Regions from separate parts of the Homo sapiens genome. Here regions 2 and 3 are each linked to region 1. The links come from fine-mapping of genetic effects on gene expression. A gene starts in region 1. Each other region holds a variant in brackets. All regions are shown on one strand. Distances are between the middles of the regions. Region 1 holds the start of ARHGAP32 (Rho GTPase activating protein 32). Region 2 overlaps ARHGAP32 (Rho GTPase activating protein 32). Region 3 overlaps LOC124902791 (a long non-coding RNA gene).

The links. PIP is the estimated chance that this variant, and not a neighbour inherited with it, causes the effect.
Region 2: its variant is fine-mapped to the expression of ARHGAP32 in tibial nerve (GTEx, PIP 0.95).
Region 3: its variant is fine-mapped to the expression of ARHGAP32 in whole blood (TOPMed, PIP above 0.99).

What each region holds. Positions count from the first base shown.
Region 1 is chr11:129,188,700-129,196,122 of GRCh38, forward strand. It overlaps ARHGAP32 (Rho GTPase activating protein 32), which reads right to left and starts at 3,626. Exons shown (of 23, transcript NM_001378024.1): 1 at 3,384-3,626. The coding sequence starts at 3,499.
Region 2 is chr11:129,139,477-129,146,899 of GRCh38, forward strand. The region is part of intron 2 of ARHGAP32 (Rho GTPase activating protein 32); the gene reads right to left. Among named protein-coding and RNA genes, the nearest start is that of ARHGAP32, 49 kb to the right of the region's middle. RefSeq lists an enhancer at 3,266-4,465. The variant G/A (reference allele first, on the strand shown) is at 4,018.
Region 3 is chr11:129,282,535-129,289,957 of GRCh38, forward strand. It overlaps LOC124902791 (a long non-coding RNA gene), which reads right to left. Exons shown (of 2, transcript XR_007062950.1): 2 at 2,426-4,270. LOC399975 (a long non-coding RNA gene) reads right to left here and starts at 630. Exons shown (of 2, transcript NR_145484.1): 1 at 492-630. RefSeq lists an enhancer at 497-998. The variant A/C (reference allele first, on the strand shown) is at 3,953.

The DNA.
Region 1 (7,423 bases):
CCCAATTAAAATATGTTCACCAAATCATCCAGTTTAACTAAAGTCAGAACTTTCTCGTCACTTAAAATGAATTGCCTTAATAATGGAGATATACGTGAAGATCAGCGATCTGGGCATCTACAGATCGTGATCAAAAATATGGTTCAATTAAGCACTATATCATCTCTGTAGCTGCTTCAAATTATATGTCATATTTGCCAGGCTGTCTATCAGCCCATAACGTGGTATTAGGGAAGTCTAAACAAAATCATATGATAAACATTTCTACCTTCAAATGCCAAAGAACTAGAACCTTTCATGATTCCTAGGTGTCCTAGAGGTCACATTTTTTAAAAGTCACATTATTGTGTTCATTACTTCATTTTTATGATGGTCACATAATCTATATGTCATTGATGCTCATAACCTCCTCAAAAAAAAGGAATTTCAAAACTTGAGATATCAGCTGTAGCCTCTTATAAGTTATCACTTAGCAGAAAATAGCATTTAGCAGAAGATAGCCCCAAAAATCTTTCATTAAAGTCTTCACTTTCAAAGTCAGTTACATCTGGGTTCAAATTTTTGTGCTACCACTTGCAAAATTTTGCTCCACCATGACAAATGTGGGCTGTGTGACTCTCTGAGCCATAAATTCCTCACCGAGGAAATAGGAAAAATGATACCTGCTTTATAGGAGTGATAAGCAGTTAACTGATACACTGTATAAAGCATATATATGGCCTAGTACATTACATATAACAATTTCTAAGTAAAGTTTTTCTTTCTTGATAGAATTAAAACATTTATGTTTTTCCTTTTCTGCCTTATATTCCTCCTTCTTATCCAGGGATGGATTTTTCTAATCATCTCTAGGAACTATTTTATTCTAAGGACTAAATATTCTAGTCTAATAACTATTTTACCACAGTGACAAGGTAGGTAATAATACCGACTACAAATAAGAAATCAGAAAATGAAAGATCTGTGAGTCAATGGCAGACAAATTTAAACTACCACCATGAAGGAGACCGGCAACTTCCCATAGTGAAAGAGTGTTAATAAAAAGGATCCTTTCCTCCAACTGAGTCCAAAAATAAATGCTATTTCAAAAGCTACTGGACAAACATTAACTTGTCTCTGAGACTACTTCCTCCTAAAGCAGATGGCACCTGGAAGCACCAGAAGCCTACATTCTAGGTGTGGTATGACTTTACTCTCTTAGCCATGGTGCCTTAAGTTACACAAGAGCAGGCTTTTAAGAGTGCATTTAAAATGTAGTTTACAAGCTATTCAGGGAAAAAGAAAAGTGCACAATCTTTTGCCCTCATCTCAGCTATGTGTGTGTATGTGAATGGAAATGTAACCAATACGACAGCTTGATGTCACATGTATTTGCAGAGATTTTTATAAAAACACAGTAAGACATTTTTAAAATTATTACATTGATTTTACAAAAACAACTGTCATACCACACTGAGTCTACTATTTGGTCCTCCCAAGGTTACAGCTGCAACTCCTATCCGACCCTTCCCCTTCCACACCCATGCCTCCATTTTCCTGTAGGGCATCTCGGCAGGAACACCACCACGAGGTTGTGAAACCACTCTGCTGCCACATTTCCTCATGCCTCACTGCTGAATGCGTGAGAGACACTACATGAAATTGGGCCTTGCCCAGACCTCTTTGTTACATTTGTAAATAAAATCAGATCAAATCACAAAGATATAATTGATTTAGGAGAGCCATGGTGCTATTCAGATAGGAAATATAAACAGAAGAGAAATGCCCTATGGTATCATAGTTTCCTTAAACAACACATCACTAGCTCAGTTTCTCAGAGTGAAAATGCTGTCACATACTCCCAAGGAAAAGAAGAGCTCATCCTTACACAAATTTGCTTTTAACTGTCAAAAGAAAATCCCAGAGAGACGCCCACTGCCTTACAAGTAAATCTAGGATTACAGTACCAAATCTGTTATAAAAACAACAATGAAATAAGTTCCAAGTTGTTTCTTCCTTTGACAAATACCCAAATAACTTCCATAATTTGAATACCAGGTCAAAAAGTTTTATTACAAGCAAAACAAATACTTCAGTCCTACTCATTGTTAGCAAGACACAAACCATATTAAAAAGCAGAACATGTGACTAACAATTAGCATACCTTGGAAGGGAAGGGACTTACTCAAATTTGAAAGGCTAGATAAAATTATGGGAAAATGAGACAAAAGTTCAGACAAAAAATAATCATATGCTAATAATTCATTTTTATACTCTGAAAATTATTCTTTTAAAATTTTAAATATACTTCTCATTTATTTGAACCCCAGAGTAAAAAATTTAGTGAGGGTTATCAAGAGTTCCCAATATTCAATCCCTTCCATCATTTAACCTAGACTTTAAAAAATAAAATTTGTGGATAAAGAAATCCTTTGACTCGAGAAAAGGAGAAACTCTTTTTCAGCATTAAACACAAAGACAGTATCTGATGAAAACAGTATATTCACCTATCCAAGTTCTCATAGGTAAACTTATAAAAGATGTTTAATTGCACATGTGAGTGGCAGTGATAATATGCAGCAACAAACTTCAAACTTCATCAAGAGATTTTTGTGATACTCAAAGGTATTACATCGCTAACTCTGAAAGAAAAAGAAAAGCCAGAATAAAGCCCCCTAAAATTTGCAACAGTACAACAGAATGAATGAAACATTGGTTCTGTTTTCACAAACTGGTTAAGACATCTTTCTTCACCACAGACACTAAACTGAGAGCTGCTTCATCAGGAGGCATCCTCTAAAAACTTCAATTATGAAGTTACTAATACTACCAGAGATTCAAAAACCAAGAGAGATTTGGGGGAAAGGGGGCATGAGATACAAGATCAGAGACAAGGGTAAAGATCAAAGCCACAAAATAACCAATCTGTACTTAATCGGAATTTTTCATACCCATGCATAAGGCAAACAAAGCAGGCAGGCAGGCAGGCACGCACACACACACACACACACACACACACACCACATTCCAAGAAAAAGAGGAAGAAAAATCTATTAGATACAAATTCAGATCAAATCTATTTGATACAAATCAGATACAGGAAGGGGTAGTAGTTCATTATGAGTGTCTACTTGAAATTCCTGAAAGGCTACTACAAAACCTGTCTAACACCTTCTCCTCCTGGCGTTCTAACAAGTCCTTTAAAATGCATTTTACAAGTTCAGGGCAAGTTGTGGAATGAGGAGTGCTATATACAACTCAAAACCTGCTCCCTTGAGCTCCAAACCTTCCCCCAGAAAACAGAAAGTCTTATTGGAAAAAAGACCGAAATGCAGAGAAGAAAAAGGGGTGCGGGTGGGGGTAGGGAGTGGACAGGACAAAGGAACTGTGAATTCCATAATCACCTGAACTTCTCTTCCCTTTCTTCCTCTTCACAGTCAGTCACCTGGATTATAACTTCAGACTCCAACCAGAAGACACTGTCATCCCCTAAAGTGCTACTCTCACTTTCAGTCTCCATCTTGTACTTAAAAAACAAAAAAAACTAAACCTCCAGGCATGGAATAAAAAGCACCAACATTCAGGTTGTTCAGCTCTACTCATGTATACTCAGATGTGTGTCTGGTGCCCTAGTGACAGGTACTGGTGCTGGTTTAATTACAGTCAGGGTACAGACAGGAAATCACAGGCAGCACAGTCACTGCGTCTGACTGCCATACTGGTGACACCTAGACCCTCCCACTGCCTTAGGCTGCGTGACCTACATAACCAAAAGCAGAATCTAAATGAAGGTGATTTTTTACTAATTATTCTGTAATAATGACTCTTCTCAAAGTTTCCACTTAATAAGTTAAAAATAGGTATTTTCAAAATGCAGGCTTTATTTGTATCCTTTTTTGATCTCGGACTCCAGAAAGGTAAATAGAAAACTAGAAAGAATAACACCATCCACTGGCCAAGCACATGAGAAGCACAGTTATAGATCTCACAGTTAAGGAGGCTCACAATAAGTAGAGAAGATAAGTATGCTCTAGGGACCTGCCTAGGTTCATGCCTTCCAATATTACACCCATCTTTCCTTCCTCTCAGTAAGGACTGCCATATGCATCTCTGCTCAAGTATCCAGAGTGAGACATAAAAGCTGGGCTTGTCCACAGTCCTTGAAAGAAAAAAGTTTAAGTGTCCCAAGTTCAAAGATGCTGACAATCACATCAAATAAAAGCATGCAAAGTTTTACACATTTAAACTGCAAACAGTCATGGTGGCAATAAAATGACTTGCTGGGAAATGAGTGAAAGGTATAGCATCTATGACTGTCAACAACACAACTGTTACTTAGAAAAGAGCCATGTTGACAGAAACTACTGACCTGCTGGATATTCATGGCTATTTGTCTTTTACCAAGCAGCAACAAACTGCAAAGCCCTGACTTTCCACTGTATCTGATTTAATCAAAAATTAAGAAGACATCTACTGAAGTCTTCTTGAATTTTCATATTTGAAAAATAAAGAGCCAAGCACAGTGGCTCACGCCTGTAATCCCAACACTTTGAGAGGCTGAGGTGGATGCATCACTTGAGCTCAAGAGTTCAAGACCAACCTGGGCAACTTAGCGAGACCTCATCTTTATGGGGGGGGGGGGGGGGGGGCGGGAAACAGCCAAGTGTGGTGGTGCACCCTGTAGTCCCAGCTACTCAACAGGCTGAGGTGGGAGGATCGCCTGAGCCTGGGAGTTCAAGGCTGTTGTGAGCCATAATCACGCCACTGCACTCCAGCCTGGGCAACACAGCAAGACCCTGTCTCAAAAAAAAAAAAAAAAAAATATATATATATGCAGGTCCCTAGAGCATATAATATATATATTATATATAATATATATATATTATATATAATATATATATATTATATAATATATGTTATATATAATATATAATATATGTTATATAATATATATAATATATGTTATATAATACATATACAATATATATTATATATAATATATAATATATATTATATAATATATAATATATATTATATATTATATATTATATATAATATATATTATATAATACATATAATACATATATAAATTTTAAAAACTTTTCAAAAAAAATTTTTTAAACCAAAAACAACAGAACAACATTATAAGCAAAGTCAAAATGCAAACAAGTTGAGAAAAAAATATTTGAAACATATCACAAAGGGTTAATTTATTTAATATATAAAAAGTTCTTAAAAACTTCTAAGACCCAAGAGCTCAAAAGATAAATAGGCAAAGAGCAAAAATATAATACTCAGAGATAAACATAAAAGAAACTTAAAAGATGTTAAAAGTAACTTCACTGATAACAGAAATGTAAAACAATACATAATAAGATGACTTTTAAAAAATCTATCACATAGGCAAAGCTTTTAAAAGGTTTTAACAAACTGAAAGAGGACATGGGAAAAGAAACATGCCTGTCAGTGGGAGTTTAAACTGGTACAACCTGTGTTCAGGGCAATTTAGCAAAATCTACCAAAATTCAAAATGCACATCTTTTTGGCCCAGCAATTTCTCTTTTAGGAAATTATCTCACTTTCACAAGTAGAAGTAAGAGGCAAACAGGAACATTCATTCTGGTAGACATTATAGTAGCAAAATAGGATAGCAAAAACAACCTAACTTCCTGAGGAATAGAAAACTAGGCAAATTACAGAATACCCATAGAATGGAATGCTACACAGTGAGTATATGAGAAAACAAGGCAGCCCTACAGGTCACAATACGGAACAAAGCCTAAGGAATACTGTTAAGGCAAAGAAGAAAGGGGTAAAAGTATAGGGCAGTATGTGCAGTATGCTATGCTGCCATCTGTGTTTTCAATGAGGAGTTAGGAGAAACAAATGCAGACTATCTATGGAAGAAGAGGATCAGTACTAGTACCAGTAGTTGTCTCCACGGAGGAAAACAGACAGCTGGAGAAGAGGAATAAAAGAAAGACACGCTTGAACCCGGGAGGTGGAGATTGTTGCAGTGAGCCGAGATCACGCCATTGCACTCCAGCCTGGGCAACAAGAGTGAAACTCCGTCTCAAAAAAAAAAGAAGAAAGAAAGATAGTTTTTCACTATGTCATGCACATATAATCCTTACCAAAATATTAACTAATTTTAAATAGAATCTTTCATGACCTTCAGTAAAGAATTGGATTTTTAAATATTATTTCATTAAGAATCTAGTTCTTTTTTTTCTAAACAACTCTAACTCCTTCAAAGTGTTGTTTTTTTGTGGGGGGGGGGGTTGTTTTGTTTTGTTTTGTTTGTTTGTTGAAACAGGGTCTTGTTCTGTCACCTAGGCTGGAGTGCAGTGGCACGATCTCGACTCACTGCAACCTCCACCTCCCAGTTCAGGCAATCCTCCTGCCTCAGCCTCCCAAGCAGCTGGGATTATAAGTGTGTGCCACGACACCTGCTAATTTTTGTTGTTGTTGTTGTATTTTTAGTAGAGATGGGGTTTCACCATGTTGGCCAGGCTGGTCTCGAACTCCTGATCTCAAGTGATCTGCCTGCCTCTGCCTCCCAAAGTGCTGGGATTACAGGTATGAGCTACTGTGCCCGGCCTCAAAGCGTTTTCATGAATCCTATTCACCTTTTCTTTTAATCATTCTTTTGTTCTTTCATTATGATGGTTGATTTCCCTCACTTCGAGCCTTTCAAAAGTGAAAACGTGAACTGTGAGTGGTATTTTTACACAGAATACTGAAGGACAGTTAAATGTGCACATCTTCCGAGGCTTGTTCTGTTTTGACTCTGCCATCACAAGTTTTTTAAAAATGTTTTTCCTGCCTCAGCTTCCCGAGTAGCTGGGATTACAGGCACCCGCCACCACACCCGCCTAATTTTTTATTTTTAGTAGAGAAGAGGTTTCACCATGTTGGCCAGGGTGGTCACAAACTCCTGACCTCAAGTGATCCACCCGCCTCGGCTGGAGGTTGCTGTGAGCCGAGATCACGCCATTGCGCTCCAGCCTGGAAGACAAGAGCGAACCTCCGTCTCAAAAAAAAAGGAAAAAAAGTTTTTAAATTCAAAACCTACATGTGTTTCTGTTTTCTGTTCCCTTCTCCAGTAGTAAATGAAAATCCAGCGGAATCAACAGGTGATGGTTAACAGCGGGGGCAGGGATGGAACACAGCCGAGTCCATCACTCTGGCTACCAGTGTGTGAGAGAGACTAGATACTGCTGAAGACCACAAGGTGGTTTTAACTCCTTTTCTTCCTGATTTGTTTAAACCCTGATCAGCCTTCACTTTCCCAACAAGCTTTTATGGAGCTGAAGTCTTTGACTGAAACCACAGGAGTCACCAGCAGTAATTTCGAACTAGCTGGTTCTCATCTTCTACCTCCAAGAGGTAGGGAACCTGAGGGGAAGGGAAATAGCTAATCCCACAGCAGCAAAGAGAGAAG
Region 2 (7,423 bases), 49 kb before region 1:
ACTGTGTCCCCACCCAAATCTGATCTTGAATTGTAACTCCCACAATTCCCACATGTCATGGGAGGGACCCAGTGGGAGGTAATTAATTGAATCATAGGGGGCGGGTCTTTCTTGTGCTGTTCTCGTTATAATGAGTAAGTCTCACGAGATCTGACAGTTTTATAAAGAGTTCTCCCGCACAAGCTCTCTCTCTTTGCCTGCCGCCATCCATGTTAAGACATGACTTGCTCCTCCTTGCCTTCCGCCATGATTGTGAGGCCTCCCCAGCCATGTGGAACTGTAAGTCCATTAAACCTCTTTTTCTTCCCAGTCTCGAATATGTCTTTATCAGCAGCATGAAAACAAACTAATATATCAATGTTATCACGTTAAATATATTATGAAGTATAAATACCAGAGAAAACATGTAAGACTGTGGTAGGCAAAATTCTAAAGAGGGTCTCCCTTGCCCCCCAAGATTCCCACCCCATGGTTGTTCAATCAATCTAGGTACTGCTGAGAATAGAGGGTGCAAATGTAATTAAAATCCCAGGTCAGTCGATCTTAAAATATAAAAATTATCTGGATAGGCCTAATCTAATCACATGAGCACTTCAAAAGTAGAGTTTTCTCCAGCTGGTAGCAGAAGGGAAAGTCAAAGATTTGAAGCACCAAGTACCACCCCTGGCTTTGAAGCCTGAGGGGGTCACATGAGAGGGAATTCATGCAGCCCCTAAAAGTTATGCCACCACACCTCCCACAATGACAGCCAGCAAGGAAACAGGGACCTCAGATCTACAACCATAAGGAACTGGATTCTGCCAACAGAATCTGCAGATGAGAACCCAGCCCAGCCAATACTTTGATTTCCGCTTTAGGAGACCCTGAGCAGAGAACCCAGTTAAGCCTGCCCAGACTTCTAACATGCAGAACTGTGAGATAATAAATGGGTATTCTTTTAAGCCCTTAAGCTTGTGATAATTTCTTATACATATTCAACAAAAAACAAATACTAACAACATCTAAGACCTTAGGAATTTCTGAGTGCTCTCAGATTTTATATGCTCCTTTATCTCTCATGGAAGTAAAACTCTTTCCCAGGACTTGGGATGTAAAGCCTCAGAAGCTTTTGCCTCCCAGCACTCCCAGGACCCCATTGAATGCAATGACTTCAGTACCATCCCAAACCACCTTCTTAAGGCTTCCTCAAAGGAGTAAGCTATGCACTTGAAGGCAAATCCTAGAGGAAGGAGCAAATTCTGCAGGTGAGATAGGTAACTGGAGGGAGGTACACAGATCTGACACAGTTCAATAACCAGCTCTCCTATCTCCCTGGCAATCTTGCATTTTAAGTGTGAAGTCTACAATCTGTTCCACATCCCATTCTGCAGTTCTCAAGACAACACTCTTTCCCCCTAAAGGGAGGAAAATTTAATTCCTTTCCCTTTCCATGGCAACGTTTTTTAATTCCCCCTTCCAAGGTGTCTACCACTGTGTCCACTAGCCAGTCTTTTTCAGAGATATTTTCCTTCCAGTGAAACTGCCAATTCCTTTACCTATGGCAACTCCCATAATATACAATAGGGAATATGAAGTTTCACCTGCACTGCACAGCACCTTAATAATCAGGTAGAATGCTTATGTTTAAATGGAAAAGCAAGGAAATATAAAATTGTATATTGTCCATAATTATTTTAAAAATCATATTCCCAGACATGATGGGAAAGGAGAATATATCCCAAAGCAATATTCTTTGAAACTAACCATTTGAAGACATTTGTATAAGGAAAAATGTGCTTATACGGATGTTCTGTTAAAAAACTCTCAGCATTGCCATAAAAAAGGATGAGTTCATGTCCTTTGTAGCGACATGGATGAAGCTGGAAACCATGATTCTGAGCAAACTATTGCAAGGGACAGAAAACCAAACACTGCATGTTCTCACTTATAGGTGGGAATTGAACAATGAGAACACATAGACACAAGGCAGGGAACATCAGACACCGGGGCCTGTCATGGGGTAGGGGGATGGGGAAGGGACAGCATTAGGAGAAATACCTAATGTAAATGACGAGTTAATGGGTCCAGCAAACCAACACAGCACATGTATACCTATGTAACAAACCTGCACGTTGTGCACATGTACCCTAGAACTTAAAGTATAATTAAAAAAAAAAAAAGAAAGAAAAAATGGTTAAGATGGTAAATACTATGTGTATTTTATTACAATTAAAAATAAAATATATAAAATCAAAAAAAAAAACTCTCTGCATTGTAAAAAGCCTATACCAAAATAATCTCACCACCATGGGAAATAGGATTATGGGAAAGCCTCTTTTTTTTTTCTTTTCACTTTTCTGTATGTTTTATTTTTACAAGGGAAAGGGCAAAAGAGATAAAGGGAAAGAAAAAGGAAAGAGAGAAAGAGAAAGTCACAAGCTAGCTTCTTCCTCCTCTGCGTATTACTTACAGCAACCATTTGCAAATGTAAAACAACCTGTCATAAATCAATGAGATTAGATAATCTATATAACTACAATGTGCAAAGCTAGGCATTCATATTTATGGTCAGGAAAGAACAAGAATAAAAATGCTTCTATGAAGAAATTTGCCCATGTTATAGTAGTAAAAAAGATTTTTTTGTTAATCACTGAACCAAATTATGAGTTATCTGATATAAGCTATCTGAACAGTAGTGGAGACCCCTCTCAAGGCAGAAAAAGAGAGGAAGAAATACCCCGGCTCTTCCCCTCTTTCCGCCCTCCTGTCTTCCACGTGTGCTTCCCATTTGCCAAACCGAGCCAAAAGCCTGCTGGCAAAGGAGCCTGAGAAATGTTATTTGCCAGGATCGGCCTCCTACAGTAGAGAACAGAGCAGACAGAAGGTAGGATGTCCCAACTCCAGATCTATGACATTAATTACTGAACAGTACAGACATAATTACATATACAGTACAGGTTCATTTACATAAAACGCTCTCATACTTTGACAAGGCACCGTAGTCAAATAACATACATATGTATATTTATATACATGAGATCAACTGAATAAACAAGGTTTCAATACTAAATTTGTACTGTCATGAAAGGCAAACTACTAATCAAAATGAGTAGTTAATAATTAAGAACAATAAAACATCTGAAATTGCCATGGAAAATCAGAAATAATATCACCCAATACACATTCATAAAGGACATCAAAATGCAATCAGTGTTAAGTATATGCTGCTATCAAAGTGGACCAGGATTGCTCTTTTTCTTAAAGGAAAAAAAAAAACCACTAAAATATGCATGGGGAAAGTATAATAAGACTTGATCAAAGTGTTCTTTCTGTATAAGGCTAACAAAAAGCATCTGAAAATAATTCTGAGGAAAAAGTGACTTTTTGCCACTTTTCACTTTTTTTAACAGATTCAAATTTTATTTATTGTATTATCTTTATCATTTGTAGTCAGAATTTGACAGAGGTCACAGAAGCTTTAGATTAATGTTATAAATATTTCTTGAAATGGTGACAAAAATATCATTTCTGCTTAAAATATAGTGATGAAGGGGAAAAAAATTTGGCCTCTTAAATAGAAAAAAAAATAGCAGCTGTCTATATGCTGGTAAAACTGCATATATATATATATATAATCAACTGAATAAACGAGATTTTGATACAAAATTTGTGCTGTCAAGAAAGGCAAACAGGACTGCCAGTTTCCTGCAGTTTAACCATAAGAAACACACATAATGAATTTCTGAAATGACATGTTTTAGAAGATTTTACCATTGGTCTAAGTATTGTCCCCTTTCTTAAAAAGAACAGAGACAATGTAGGGGAAATCCAATAAGTAGTCCTCCTTTATCTGTTATTTCACTTTTCACAGTTTCAGTTACCCATGGTCAACCTCGGTCAAAAAATACTAAATGGAAAATTCCTGAAAAAAACAATGTATAAGTTTTAAACTGCATGCAGTTCTGAGTAATGTGATGAAATCTCACACAGTCCCGCACCGCCCCACTCCGTCCCGCCTGGAACATGAATCATTCCTTT[G/A]TCCAGTGCATCTACACTGTGGACTACCCGCCGGTGACTCACTTGGGAGTCATCTCAGTGACCAGACCAACTCTCATGGTATTGCAGTGCTTGTATTCAACTCACGCTTCTTTGACTTAATAATAGCCCCAAAGCACAAGAGGAGTGATGCTGCCAACATGGATATGACAAAGAGGAGCTGGAAAGTGCTTCTGTAAGTGAAAAGGTGAAGTTCTCAACTTAATAAGGAAAGAAAAGAAATCATACACTGAGGCTGCTGAGATCTACAGGAAGAATGAACCTTCTATCCATGAAACTGTGAACAGTATATCATTATAACTGTTCTGTTTTATATTAGTTATTGTAAATCTCTTACTGTGCCTAATTTATAAATTAAAGTTTATCAAGTACATATGTACTAGAAAAACCACAGTATATATAGTGTTCATTACTATCTGCAGTTTCAGGCATCCACTGGGGGTCTTGGAACATATTCCCCTTGGATGGAAGGAAACTATTGTACCATCAGAAAGATAGATTTATTAAAACTGTGTTATATTATTTTGAACAACAATGTTACTAAAGTGATTCTTAAAAAATAAGTATGTCACAAGGAATTCAAATAACTGAGTTACATGTGTGAATATCCGCAAAAGAATTTTGATATAACAAAATAGACTTAATGCTAAAAACAAACTACAATTTTCTTTACTTATTCAAAATTGTTGCAGGTCCTTAGAAAAATCATCACTGTACAGTACTAAGGAAAAAAATAATTAGGCTTTTACATGTTTATATATTGTGAGTTCAGGTATGAGTCTCCACAGAATATGGCAATAATTATTTAAAATACACAGACACTTTCTAAATCGAATCTGTGAATGCTGTTTAGTGGTTTCTCTCAAAATTCTTTTCAGCGTTATGCACCTCCATCAGACTTGATAACAGCCTAGCAATTTTACTAAAAAAACACTTCACATATAAGAAAACTCAAGAGCTCTGAACTAAAAATAGTGCTAAATGGGGAATATTTCCTAATGTCTTAATATCTGGGCACCACAGACCAGGCTCAGGAACACATCCTCCCATGTGTTATCTAGCACCACCAATGTGGAAGTGCCAAAAACCAGAAACAGGAATCAAAGAAGGTGACAGGTAAATTTCAGTAGCTGGTAATTCACAAACACAGAAATAGCCATCAAATAAGCCCCAAGGGTAAATTGTATCACTATTCTTATTCAATTCTCTATTTTGAGTGGGAACAACAGGATGAGAAGACTGAAGGAAAAAACATGATTTCTGAAAGTGATTATAAAACTAGCTCTTCTGCAGCAAGGGTGTTGCCTTAAACTTCACTTCTAGAAAATATCTCCTCAGAGAGCCAATTAACCACAGGGAAAAATTATTCGGAGGCGATATTTAAAATAATTTGGAAAAAACTATTAGAAAGCACCATTAGCATAATAATCACAACTCCTCTGCTAGGCAACAGCTGGTTAATCAACCTAAAATTAACACATTTACATATTAGCAAAGCTTTTAAATGTTATACTTTTCTATAACTGAGATTCATCCTTTCCTTCATCTCAGTCCCTTATCATTAAAGATACTCCTAAATTCAGAAGGCTCGCTAAAAATACAGGGTTCCAACAATGTATATAATTTTACCAGACATTTTATACAAAGGTTCCTATGAAACTCTAAGAACTTTACCTTTACAGGTACTTTATTATGGTAAGTTATTGTCAGTCTTCAGCGCTGCTAGAAAATGATACTGATCTCTTTCTACACTTGAATTCTGTGTACATTAGATTTACTAGTAAAAATGTGCATGCAATATTTAAAGATATATTATAAATATAAATGATATAAATTCTGGGAAAAGAGTATGAATAGAAGAAGGGTAGAAGAAAAGAAAGACCACAAACTAGATGTTTATTTTGAAAAATTTCTAATAAAGGAAGAAATAGCAAGATCCTAGACCACCATGACACTCCAAGTAAGACCTAGAAGAACCATTGTCCCTCCACCTGCATGTTTCATGTAGTTTTTTCCTTGAATATCTTGTAAGTTTTAAAAATTTTTTGAAAGGCTATACAACAAATCATATCAGTAAAAGCAACATCCAGATCACCTAACAACTTAAAGAGCATGCTTGAAATATAGTTTTCAGTTTAATGATTAACAATAGTCACATGCTTAAGCATTGGTTCAACAATTCAAACGGTTATAGGCCTTACGTTATGAAACTGCCAATTGTTAAAATTTTGACCTATAAAATTATCAATTTCATAGACTCCAACTATCAGAGTTCTCAGTAACGTATTAAATAACTTCAATAATTAATACCACTTGATTCATGCCAGAGAAGTCACAGAATCTTTAGCCAGAGAAGTCATAGAATCTTTAGCCAGAGAAGACGTACCACGGGAGAGGATAGGATAGAGACAGACTTAACAGTTGTTTACTGAAGAGCTCCAAACAAACTGGCAAAAATTCAAAACCTGGGCTTTGCATATTAATCAATGGTTACATTTGTGATGGTTCACAAAGCAACATAACATAAAACATTCCGCTTTTAAAGACTGAGATGATAAACATCACTAGGTCCTCTGAATTAAAATTCACTCATAAATCAAAATAAACAGTTAAACATCACACAGGAATAAAAGAGCTAAGGATACTGATTTAAAAAACATTTGCAAATACTTTTTCTTTTATTCAAATTGAAAATGTTTTTACAAGTTGATGGGTTAAAAAGAACCAGTCTAAATTTCACCTTATCTATGATTTCAGTTATCCACAGTCAACTGCAGTCCAAAAATGTAAAATGAAAAATTCCAGAAATAATTCATAAGCTTTAAACTGTGTGCCATTTCGAATAGTGCAATGAAATCTTGCAGTATTATGCTCTGTCTTGGCCAGGACATGAATCATCACCAGCATATCCACATTGTATATGCTACACATACATTAGTATATACAGGGTTCAGTACTCTCCGTGGTTTCTTTCTCTTCATAATTTTAATATCTTATTTTCTGAAAGAGCCTAATATTTAATTGATAAACAATCTCACTGTAAACTGTAAATATTTTACTTTTAGTAATTCAGAAAAACTATAGCATTTTATTAGATTTCTTGAAATACTGAATCTAGTTACAGATTTATGAAGAGTACATAACCATAAATTACAAAAGGATAGAGCCCCATTTTAGGTTTTTACCATTGTTTTGATTTTTAAATGACTATAATAAATATAAAACTCCTTAAATTTTTAAGTTCCAAAATTTCCAGCTCCTTTTTAGATATGTTTATTAAAAAACTAATATTCTGATGTCATAACACAAATCAATAAAAATGTAATACTTAAGCCCTTTTATCTCTGAAGTAATTTAAAAAATTAACCAAATGGAATTGAGTGTAAAT
Region 3 (7,423 bases), 94 kb after region 1:
TTTCCATCTTCTCTCCTTTCCCTATCACATTTTCATCATGAACCTCTATCATAGTAATTCAGAACTTTGTGTTATTCTCCTATGAAATTTTTTTTTTCAGTCTTTAAACCTTAACACCAACTCCACCTATTGACATGTCCACTTTTGAATGGGGTCCTTGGCCTCCTCTGTGATTCTATCTGCTGCCTGCCCCAGGGCTCTGACCGTGGGCCCCTCCTGTTCTCTTTCTACACTGCCACCCTAGGCAGCATCCTCCAGCAAGGCTTTAAGTAGCCTCTACTTTTAACCCTGGCCCCTCCCCAGCACTCCACCCTCTTATATCCTGCTGCCTCCAGGCATCTCCATTTGAATATCTCCCACTTAATGTGTCTCAAACAGAACTTTTGATTTCCATATTGTAAACAAAACCCAAAACTGATTCCTCCAAGTCTGCCTCATCACAGGACAAAAAATATCTCTTCCTTTCAATCACCACGTTCATTTTAGCCTACCTTCAAATGGTACGGAAGCCAATCGCATCCTTCTCTCTTAACCACGAACACCCATGTCTGCCCTCCCCGTGATCTTTCTCCTGGGTGACTGGGACAGACGAACCATCACCCTGCTTCCACTTTTTCCCCTCCACGGTCTAGCCTCTACACAGCCACCAGAGAATTTATTGTAAAGCATTGGTAAGATAATGTCCTTGTTCTTGCCCAAAACACTCCAGGGCCCTGTGCTTCTAATCACACTGCAATAAAATCCAAAGTCCTTTCCCAGCCTTTCAAGTCCTTTCAGCCCTGACTCACCAGTTCAGTTTTTTACCTTTTGCCATTCACTCTGCCTCAGCCACACCCACCTCCCTCCTGAGGTTTCTCAGACCTGCCAGGAAGACTCCACCTTCCTGGCTTTTAAATTAACCTTCCTACTACTATATAAAATAGTTCTGCCTTCTCTGTCCCCTTACTCTGCTTCTTTTTTTTCTCATAGCACTTATCACTACATGATTATGTTGTGTAATCAATATTTATTATTGGACTCTGTTCCTAAAATGTAAGCACCATGAGGGCCTGGACTTTGTTTATTCACAAATGGGTATGTTTATGCCAAATGAATACATAAATGGTACTATCAGGGTGCAAAGTCTTTATACACACTTCTTACCTGCTGTTGTGTATTGCCATGGATCTATCTTTATACTTAGTACAAGTGGAAACAATTGCAAAGTGTAACATTATGTAATTTAAATTTCCTGTACTTTCAGCTCTGACCTCTCCCCAGCCCTCCAGCCTCATATATTCCACAATAAAATTATATCATTTGCAGTGCACTGCAAGTCAAATCAAGACAAACTATACTGAAAATCTAAGAAAATATCAAGATTCAGCAGAGAAAGGTACATATTACATGAGGAATTTAGTGCCCGTAGGACAAAATCACAGTCTAACCTTGCAATTAGGTTTTAATATGTAGAAATTAAAGGCACAGAAAAAGCCAAATTATATGAATTGGCTTCTCAATCCAAACTGAAATAATCACCATGGTGAGAAAGAACATAAATTTTAGGAGGACAAGTTTCCCTTTCATTTTTTATCTTATCTCACTATGTAGTCTTGGACAAGGCAATTAACATCTGTTTTCCCATCTGTAAAATGGGCTTGCCCGCTGTCCTCTTTAGTTGGGTATCATAAAGATAGAATGACTTAATTATTATAAAAATGTTTTAGAAGAAAGGAATTTTGCAAGTGAACAGTGATTATTATTACTTTCCAAACTTCTTTGTGTAATATTTTGAAAATGAGGAAGAAATAATATATTTTTTCAATGTGTCTAAAGACTGAAGTGAATCAGCATTTCTAAATCATGCAGCACTTCCAAAATTATCAGAAAAAACTTTTGGAAGTCGCGAAGCAACCTGTAGAGTCACCCAAGTATATCACCTACCATGGGAGGCTCTATATACTGAAGCATTAGGAGGAACAACACGTAATCCATTTTATAGTCAGAGTGCACTATGATCAGGAAGTGAAAGGAATAGCACGGAAATGCAAGCATTTGTGTAAAGTATTAATTCCACTTCTTATCAAACAATATAATGTGGAGATCCTTGAAAGAATGAATGAACAAAGAGGCAACTATAACATTTCTATATATGACATGCTTCAGGGCAGCAAAATGTTTGGAAGGAGAAAGAGATCTAGGGGACTTTTTGAAGCTCTGTCTCCAGCAAGCATGCTGCTTTATTTAGAGCGTATGTTTAATTGAGGTGACTTGGAGGAAGCTAAATCTCCCATTGGTGGCTGTGACAGTGGTGAGAAGTTGCTATTACTCATAAGCGCGCACACACACACACACACACACACACACACACACACTTTACTGTAAACACATTGAATGCTCCACTCCTCCCTCCAAGCTTGGCCTGAATCAGCACTCTACTCAGTGATGCTCCCAACCCCAAAGGCTTTTATTAGATCTAAAGAACTGAAACCAGTGTTGAGGAAATGCATGGGAAAGTGACTTGGGAAAGCTAGAGATCAAAGAGAGGTCACTCAACTCCAGGGTGGCTGCTTTCCCAGGGTGCTCCCAGCAATTCCCCTCCCACGATTTTGTCTTTTATGGCTTCCAGTTTCCAGAACTTAATGCATCTCAGAAGGTCTAAAACATCTGTGTTTTTCTGCTATATTCAAAATACTTGTTGGCGGAGGATTTACCGATGTCTCTGACACTGCATGCAGTGATGTGATGTTTCCTGGGCAACTTAAGAACTGTAGTAGGTAATCCTATAAGGCATTTTATTATTTTTTAAAATCACTTGTACTTGGCTTGGGAAGTTATCTTGTATTTAACTTTAAGCATAGATGATCCCTGGATATACTGAGGGCTAGGGGACATAATGTGTCAGACAAAATAATAAAACTACCCTATCCAAATATTATTCTCCTGTTCCCTACTTAATTTTTTCTCTTATGTATTTCATGCTGAAAACAAACAGCATTACTCCTCAGAGTGATATAAAAGGCCAGTCTCAGGCAGAGCTGATAACAGACTCAAACTGACTCGTTGACTCCTGCTTTCCCCAGTCATGGTCTGATTTTAAAAGTACTTATCTGTAGTTCTTGATTGATTTAAAAAAAAAAAAAAGCAGCAACTCCCTTACTCATGGTAACAGAATGCTCTGTTAAAGAATACTACAACAGTGATAGGTTGGGTCAAATAGTTGAGAAAATTATAATTTAGGCAATGCAGAGTTTTCTGTGCACCTTTCAAAAGAAAACTTAGTGCTTTATCAAATATGAGGCACTATTAATTTTGAGAGAAATTCAGGCACAGAGAGATTCAAAACCTATCTAAAATTCAGTCTATGCTTTATGATAATAAAAGAGAGATATCTCTTTTTTGTAAATATGTGTTGATGGCCAGGTCACACAAAACAAGACGATACTTTTTTAGAGATGGGGGTCTCACTGTGTTGCCCAGTCTCATCTCAAATGCCTGGGTTCAAGCGATCATAGCTTGGATTACAGGTAGGTACCACGGAAGCCAAGGCAAGAGGATCACTTGAGGTCAGGAGTTTGAGACCAGCCTGGGCAACATAGCAAGACCCCATCTCTAAAATATATAAATAAATACAATTTAAAATATTTTTAACGTTATCCGTGCATTTCTGTGCATCACAGGAGAAAGTCCACCAGAAGAGTGCAATCCTTCTCCACTCTCTTTCGTCCCCTTTACTACTGGAGGGGAGAAGACAAAGGGTCCTTACATTTACATTTCCACCACCGCCTCTAGTTACCATACCTGGGGCAGTTGGCTGTAACTCTTTCCATGCCCACAAGAACACAGCATTAAAAACAAAACCACATTCAAGTACAGTGACTCCAGCTAAGCTGTGGCGTGTTGATTAGCCAAACCATTGGCATTTCACATGCCCAGTCCTTGCTGTTCTTTGATGGGCAAGTAACCCCGAAGA[A/C]GAGAGCAATTTTTCCATCGTCACCCATTTTATAATTACTAGCCCTGCTTCTGGGCTGGCTGTCACATCCTACACCTCCCCAAATCCTCTGGTGCAACTTTTTGGGAGAGTTAAAACCTCCTCGATGTCACCTTGGTACTATAATGATGTCCTTTGACAGAAGAAACAAAGTCAACCACCATGTTCTCCCTGAGAAGTTCAGGAAAGTTTGATTCTTCCTTTTCCAAAGGAGAAAAGTATCTTCAAGGAGATGACTAAATCTTACTCAGAAGCATCCTTCTTCATTAAGTTCTCATCTGTATGGTACCATGCTGGAGGCTGGGCAAAGAAAAGCAAATAATGAGACCCTTCCATTTCTCTATGCTTTGGGTTTAAGATCGACAAAACCCACAAAAGCTAATCTCCGAGTATACAGACATCAAACAGCTGTGCAAACATTGGACAGATGCATAAATTAAATACAAAAGTAAATAAAGTATTTACATTATGTACAAGTCATGCAGCTGCTGTTACTACACTCCACGAAGGCTCCAGAGGGAAGGAGGGACATTAAGCTGAGCAGATTGTCTTTTTCGGTCGGGGATGGTGTCAGCAGGAAGGAGCAGAAAGGTCACACATGGCTCGAGGAACAAAGACAAACTGTTACATAAACTCTTGTCTGCTGGTGCACAACCTCTAAACGTAGTCTTCAGAATGAAGCAACTTTGTTTCTCAGAAATAACTTTTATATCTCAGACTATGCTTTTAGGAATCTGTGTCAGTAACTAATTTTAAAGTGTCAGGGATGGCCCCATGGCCAGCAACAGCAGGAACCCAATGAGATGACCTAAGAGATCACAAGAACTGTCCTACCTCAAAGACTACCTTGATATTCTACATGTGTCCAGGGTGGGAGAAATAAAATGAATGGCAGTAGCCCACTGCCATTGGAAACTCTGCCTGGTATCCTGCTGCTGTGGAAATTTCCTCAGTCTTCTCTATGGAGGAACACAGGATGCAGCGCAGCTTTGTTTAGCCTAGATTCCCATACTCTACACCTGGAACATAGGACACATGAATGATTGATGAACTACTAAGCAGCTCATGAATCTCTCCTTACTTTAGGAGATAAAAGGGAGGATAGCCTTTTGTGTTTATGTTAAATTAAAATACCATTTTTATTCAGAGTAGCCTGTATAGTGTTCTATATTTGAGGAAAACAAAAAGATTTAAAAAGAGAGAAAACAACACAAGCCCCTGGTTTAAAAAAATTAGAAATGGCAGTAAAATGGAAAAATTCATAACTACAATTCAGAGGTAATCATTATTAATATTTTGGTACATATCTTCTACATGTCTTCATGTACATGGATATATATAAAAAATTTTAACAGAAACAAGATCATACTGAAAATAATGCATGCAATCTGCTTTTTTCCCCTTAATGCTTTTTAAACTTTTCTTGCCAATAAATATTTCTACATTATTTGTATATAATCATATGTCTATGCCATATTTTTTTAGTCCCCTGTTGTTGGACATTTCTAGTGTCATGATTTTTTTTTTTTTTTCTCTAACTTGTAATGGCTGGTGGAGCAATCTTATCACTAAAGGTGTGTGCACAACACAGACTTCTGAGAGTCAGAATTCTTCCCACACCCACCGGCTGATACTTAGAATTCCATGCCTAGTGCCTCAGTCCTTTGCCTTAAGGATTTTGTTTAGTTAAAAAGTGAGTCCCAGGAGAGCTGTTTCTTAAAACACTATCTGACACTGATTTCCCATTTTTCCTTGGGAAGTCCCGAGGAGAGTCGCAAAGACTGGTTTTATGCTGAGGTCTTGGCCCTGGGCCTTGGCTGATGAAACCAGAAAAGTCCCCAAGTTCACGCATGTTCTGGTAGAACCGTTACAATTTTATAATTGACTAAACTCCTTGAGCAGTTGGGAACACAATTAATGCTGGCTGGTACTAATTATTGCCTAAATTCAGTTTATTATAGGAAATAGGTTCAGTTCTTAGCATATTCCCTCAGGACCTGGTCCACATATTCATTAATTTTTACTCCCAAATACTTTATATTTGTATGGTTTTCTGTAAATATAAATCTATTTACCTTGTAGCCTATCTTTATTACTGCATGTTCATTGAATTAAACTTATTCAGACCTCAATTTTTCATTTCACTTCTAAGCAATATAACTGTGATCAGTCATATCCCAGAATTCAGGACTGGTACTGTAATCCCCACAGAGATGGTATAGTTCTTTTTATCTACAAATCCAGGATTTTCTTTAACCCAACACACATGTCTGTGAGGTGTGTTATCACAGTATAACATACCTGGTTACCCTGTGAAAAGCAGAGCCCAGGAAGAGTGAAGGTTCCTGTTTCTATGCAACCATAGGTATGTACGTGTGTGTGTGTGTGTGTGTGTGTGTGTGTGTGTGACAAAGAGAAGAAGAGAGAGACAGCGAGAGAGAGACACACACACACAGAGAGAGAGAGGGACAGAGAGAGAGAGAGAGAGTATTTATCTGGAGAATAGCTGTACATCTCCAGGGACCCAGGATCAGCAGTGTCAAGGTCTACCAGGTGCTTATGAAGTGCTAATTGCGCTGTTACTGAAGTTCAGTTTCCACCAGAGACTCACAGAGCGACCTTGGGGAAATGATTGAATGCTTCCATTCCTCCAATCTCACACCTGAATACCGGGGATGATAATATTGCCCAACTCCTTCCCTTACAATGGCATAAGAATGAAGTAGCTTACAGTTGGTGTTTTGAGAGTCTGTGGGAGCATTATTACTTCATGCTACCTTTTTTATATGTAACTTTTGTGCACTCAACCATTAAGGAGGGACAACTGTGCCACGGATGTTTCTTTTCTACGCTGCTCTCTTGGGGAGAGTGTCCAACTGCTGAAACTTACGTATGAAAAACGAGAGCAAGAGAGAGACAGAGAATGAGAAATCATAACCTCCCACTCACATATATTTGGCATTTCAAGCTTTGAGCAATTAATAACCAACTCCTTGACTTGGAAGCTGTCATGCTCACAATGCTGTTTGAACTGTTCCCACACAACCCACTGAACACACCTTCCTTCCAGAAAAGGCTGTCGCAGACGCACTTTTCAGCCTTGAAAGACAAAAGAGTAGACTTGAGCAAACACGAAGACTTTCATAAAATGGAGTAAGGACGAAAGTCTCTAACTCCAGAAGACCAGTATTTCTAAGCAAATAGTCCAGTTGTTTCCTGCCATTCTGAATGTTTCTGCCGTTCTGAATATGTCTGCCATTCTGAATGTGTTCATCGGGAATTTGAGTGTGGGTTATCTGGATCCCCTTCCTCTGACATGCAGGACCTTGTTGCACCACTGGGAGTTCCACAGGAAAGGGAATGAACAAGGGAGAGTCTTTAATAGAGAATTGTGAATATGTCTACAGCCATACCACCCTGAACGCACCCGATCTCATCTGATCTCGCTAGCAG